Regions from separate parts of the Homo sapiens genome. Here region 1 is linked to region 2. Evidence: fine-mapped expression QTL. A gene starts in region 2. The other region holds a variant in brackets. All regions are shown on one strand. Distances are from middle to middle. Region 1 overlaps TMEM71 (transmembrane protein 71). Region 2 holds the start of TG (thyroglobulin).

Evidence for each region. PIP is the estimated chance that this variant, and not a neighbour inherited with it, causes the effect.
Region 1: its variant is the best candidate, but not a certain one, in a credible set for the expression of TG in Th2 cells (Schmiedel 2018, PIP 0.87).

Annotation. Positions count from the first base shown.
Region 1 is chr8:132,746,480-132,749,506 of GRCh38, forward strand. It overlaps TMEM71 (transmembrane protein 71), which reads right to left. Exons shown (of 10, transcript NM_001382403.1): 5 at 463-635. Among named protein-coding and RNA genes, the nearest start is that of TMEM71, 13 kb to the right of the region's middle. The variant C/G (reference allele first, on the strand shown) is at 1,325.
Region 2 is chr8:132,865,802-132,868,301 of GRCh38, forward strand. It overlaps TG (thyroglobulin), which reads left to right and starts at 1,157. Exons shown (of 48, transcript NM_003235.5): 1 at 1,157-1,266; 2 at 2,314-2,422. The coding sequence starts at 1,200.

The DNA of each region.
Region 1 (3,027 bases), 120 kb before region 2:
TATATATACATATATATACATATATATGTATATATATATGGTTTTATGAAGAAATTGAAACTCAGCAAAGTTAAGTACTATCCAAGTGTACTCATACTGGGACTTGAACCCTGACTCCAGTACATTTTTTCCAATGCAGGTCTTCTAAATCTGACTCTAGTATCCTTTCTCCACCAATATCCCTTACAGAAAAAATACAGTGGAGATGTGCAAATATTTTCCCAGCATTATCAACTTAATAATTTACACATTTACATTAGGCTATTTTGCATGACATAGACACATATGTGTTTTGATCACACATGTAATATAGAGAGAACTTTAAGTGAATTTTAAAAATGTGGCCCATCTCTCCATCAAAATGACTGTCATCCCTGGAACTGACATTGGTTGAGGACCACAGGGTTACCACTGCCCACTTGGAGATAAAATTTTACTATGGAAAGGAGGACTCAAACTCACCATTTCCATTGCAATGGTCTGTGTCCAACCTCCTGGTCCCCTTCAACCAGTTGTCTTCACTTGGAGAAGAGTTGATGTCACCAAAGATACTTCCATGCAGCCAAGATTTGGAGGTACTGAGGTTGAAGAGAGAAGAAAAGGAATGGCAGATTCTCTTTTTCTTTCTAAATATCCTAGAGAGAAATGAAAGCATGGTGAACAACGAATAATAGTTACCTTTAGTTCAAAACTGTGATTTGAAGCGCAGAGTACATTTCTACAACCCAAGTCTGCTCACTGCATTAATTCTACAAAAGTTTCTCAAAATTCTACTGTGTGCCAGGTCCTTGGCTCAATGTCAAGAGTACTGAGGTAAAAGACAAAACTTTGTGTGTGAAAAGTTCACAATGTATTATAGGAGAAAGAAAGAAATAATAATGCACATATAGGTAATGCTTTCCTAGAGTTTATTCTATGCCTTGCATCTTTCTTAGTGCTTTACATAGATTAACTCACATTATCTTCAGAACAACTGTATGAAATAGATACTATTATTATCCCATTTTTCTGATCAGGAAACTTAGGCACAGATAGGTTAAGTCACTTGGCTGAGGTCATGCAGCTAGTAAGTAACATAGTTGGGATGCAATCCCAGAGAGTCTGCCTCCACGGTCTTTGCTTTTGATCGCTATGCTATATAGGGGATAAGTGCTCTGAAAGGATTACCTAGAGGCTGCTGTGAGGGCACCAGGAGTGGCAGTGCTAATTGATAATCAAGGGAGTTTTTCTGGGAGAAGTGAGTTCTAAGCTGCATCAGATGATCTGACCTGTTTATTGAGGAACCAGTAAGTCTGATTAGGTCATGCCAAGAAATGAAGCTGGA[C/G]AGGTAAAAGGAAGGTAAGTAATGATGAACTTCTTATATGCTACAAGGGAGTTGGAATTTAGTGTTGGAACAATGGGAGACCTCTAAAGCATGGCTACAGGGAACAGATTAGTGATGACATAATTCGGTTTGCATTTCCAAAATTGTTGGTAGCAGAGGGTGGCTCAGAGGTACAAGATTGAGGTCAGAGGGGTTAATCGAAGTGCACAGGGGATTCACTGTTGCGTATCTGCCTGTGATGTGTCAAGCCCTGTGCTGAGCACACTGTACTGGCAAAAAATACTGAGGGCCTGAACCAAAGGTAATGCAAGGTTGAGTGGGACAGCTTTCCCATCACAGGCAAGGTGGGCATGGAACAGTTTTCCCATCACAAAATTCTGCTCTTTAGCTATAGCTGCTATCAGAAGATGCATTTTGAATTGTGCTTTCCCTTGGTGGTTAAGATGAATTACAACAAGCCTTGTGTGTTCTTTATCCTGATGGTTCTCAACCAGGTTGATTTTGGCTGCAGGGAACATCTGGCAGGTTTTGGAGACATTTTGTTAATGTTACACCAGGGAAGGAGTGCTCCTGGCAGATGGTGAGAAGAGGCTAGAGATGCCATTAAACATCCTACAATGCACAGGGCAGTTGCCCACAACAAATAATTATCTGGTACAAAATGTGAATAGTGCTACTGTTGAGAAAATCTGCTTTATTTGAACTCTCTCTGTCATAGGTTTCAGGAACAACAAGTTGAGAAAAATGGTAGAGTTCATGACAATGGAACACATTCTTGTGAAAATGAACCAAATTTTAAAGATTCTTGTAGGCTCTAAGATGAGATCAATTAAAATTGAATAAAAAGGAATTAGTAATTTTTATTCATTTATTATCATATTCATTAATTCACTAAACAACTCCTTATTAAGTATGTATTATGGGATGGGCACTCATCAAATTTGAGAACAAAAAGTATGGATGAGACATCTTTAACATCAAGAATATCTATATAACAAGGGCTAGAGTTAAAAGTGGTGTTTCAAAACTGATTCGCTAAAGTCAGACCATCTGAGCTGGAATCCTATTTCCACCTAATAGCCCTGTGAGCTTGGGAAAATTACTCAACCTCTCTGAACTCATGTTTCACCTTTGTGAAATGGGAATGGCAGTAATAAAATCTACGTCATAAGATTCCAGAGCAGGAGTTTGGAATCAAATGGTAGTATATATCCAAAACAGTTGAGATAGTCCCTAGCACACAGAAAGCAATCAATAAATTTATTTTATTTTTTTATAGCAAATATTGGCAGTTATGTAAGGTGAAATGAGAAGAAAGAAAATGGAGTAAGACTTTCCTGAAGGAGGGTGCCTAACCAATGTAAGAAAACCACCTTGCAATAGCCTGGCCTGGGGAATGTACTGGAAGGTAGGTAATCCAGGAGGCATCAGAATCAACCATGGCTGAAATCTAAACAGGAGGTGATGGTGGCCTGAATGAAGAAAATAGCTATGGGAAGAAAGACAAGAGGAACAATTCAAAATAATTTTAGGAAGTAGATTCATTTGGTCTTCACATTTGTGGTGGAAACAATAAACTTCTCACCAAATACACTGTACCTGGACACACAACTGAACTAGATCTTTCTGCTCCCTTGCCATTAGGTGTGGTCATGAGTCTAAGGTCTCCCCAGTGCAATGTGAGCAGAAGTGATCTGTACCAT
Region 2 (2,500 bases):
CCGGGACCATATCCTCCAGATTCTCACAGGTCCCTCCATCTCTCCTCAGGTGCCAGGCTCAGCAACCTGCCCTCATTACCTGCCAGTTCCTGACCCTATCTGTCACTAGCTCCTTACCTGGCTGGATTGGTCTTCTGAATACTTGCCATTCCCTGGCATGATGCTTTTGCAAAATAAGAAAATCAATAATAATAATAATAACTGCTAGTGTCTAATAAGCATGTGCTCTTCAATGTCTATTCTCTTACAACTACCTTAACAAATAGGGACATATTATTATTCTCCTTTTAACTTTGCTTTCCAGAGAAGGAGGCTGGGGCTCAGGGAGATGAGGTGAGTTTTTCCAGGTCTCACAGGAACAGGACTGAAGGAAGGAAGCCATGTTTGCCAGGAGAAACCAAATGGACATACAGGCTTTCTGTGGAATACACAGTTCCTGCTATCTTTTGGTTGACAAAGTCTGAGGTCCTAGGAAAGAGAGGAAAGTAATAGAAATATGAATATGAGTGTGTGTGTATTTTGCTTCCCTCACCAAAGTTTTCACAGTCTATATTAATGAGGGCACGATTTTGCCTGTTTTGTTCTCTGCCATATCCTCATTGTCTAGATTAGGTGCCTGCTACTGTGGAGCTCTAAGAGGTTGTTAGAGAAAGAATAGAAGAAAGAAAAGAAGGAAGGAAGGAAAGAAGGAAGAAAGAAAAGAAAGAGGGAAGGAAGGAAAGAAAGAAGGAAGAATGAAAGGAAAGAAGGATAGAAGGGAGAAAGGAAGGAAAGAAGAAAGAAAGGAAGAAAGGAAAGAAGGAAGGAGGAAGGAGAAGGAGAAAGGGTAGGGTGGGGAAGGAAAGAACAAAGGATTGCTTTTCCCTCACTGTGGGCTTGAGCCTGTTCCCTCCAAAGATACAGAGCTTTGGTCTTTACCCATAAAAAAGGATTTTGAAGTCACCCCACCCCGTTCTGTTCCCCCACAGTTTAGACAAGATCCTCATGCTCCACTGGCCACACGAGTGCCCTCAGGAGGAGTAGACACAGGTGGAGGGAGCTCCTTTTGACCAGCAGAGAAAACAGGATGGGGCACTGCCTCACTGAGGACCTGGGGGTGGGAAGGAAAGTGCCAACGGCAGCTCTATAAAAGCTCCCTGGCCAGGGGACCTAGGGCAAGCAGTGGTTTCTCCTCCTTCCTCCCAGGAAGGGCCAGGAAAATGGCCCTGGTCCTGGAGATCTTCACCCTGCTGGCCTCCATCTGCTGGGTGTCGGCCAATATCTTCGGTAAGTTCTGAGGCCATGGAGCCAGGCGGTGGGGAGGGAGCTCCAGTGTCAGCCAGGCTCTGCCCTGGGCCTTCGAACAGGTGCGATCTAATTTAATCTTCACAAATTCCCACATGTCAGTGATTTGCTTTTTTTTTTTCAGATGAAGAGGCAGATTTAGAGAGCCGAACTGAATTACTTGAGGTCACAGAGCTAGTGATTGATGGAGCAGAAATGGGAAATGTGGTTGATCTTCCTAATTCAATTCTAGGTCCTCCTCACCCCACCATTTTGGCAAACTTTTGGCATTGACCTTGGGTTTTTATCCCCTTAGCTATTCCAAAGTCTGTGTCATCCATAACAGGTATTTTAGAAGCAGTAGAAAAAGAAATCTACCTATGAAGTGAAATAGCCCTAAGTTCTGTCTTTGGCTCAGCCACTTACCCATATGACTTCGGGCAAAGTGCCAAGCTTCTGTTTTTTTTTTTTTTTTTTCATTTAAAAAGTAAACAAATAACACACACCTCATGATGCGGTTGTGATTTCTGGGTAGGACCCTATGTGTTACAAGAGTTCTCAATGGAAAAATAAGTCATGTACATTATTAATTAATTGGTATTTCAATGTTTATCTGGAACATGTTACATCTGCAGGGCATGGCTTGATAGATTCAAGAAGAACTTCCTTACGGTTCTCTAACTTACTCCAAATAGCCTCATGGGAATTGCGGCAGGGTGGGGGCGGGCGGGGAACGTGTAGTCCCAGCGTTGATTTTGGGATCCTTCACTTGCCAGTTACGTGACTTTGGGCAGACGACTTTCGCTGCCTGAGACTTGGTGCCTCATGAGTGACAAGGATATATTGCCTGTCACCTCTTAGGAGAATGTTGCACATTAAATGAGCTAATGTCATACTTGTAAGAAAGTGTGCTTAGCTGCCAAATTTTAAAATAGGCTGTCATAGGTAATGATGATGACCCTGGAAAAGCATCTGTGCTTATGAGAGCCCGTCTCTGTCCTGGCAGCCCAGTCCACACTCTTCTTTGATGAACCACTTTTCTTTTCCTAGAGTACCAGGTGGATGCCCAGCCCCTTCGTCCCTGTGAGCTGCAGAGGGAAACGGCCTTTCTGAAGCAAGCAGACTACGTGCCCCAGTGTGCAGAGGATGGCAGCTTCCAGTAAGGCTTATGTCAGCAGCGAACTCTCAAGGTCCAAGATGCCATAAAAAGCATCTTGTGCCTTCCCCCCTCTTCCTG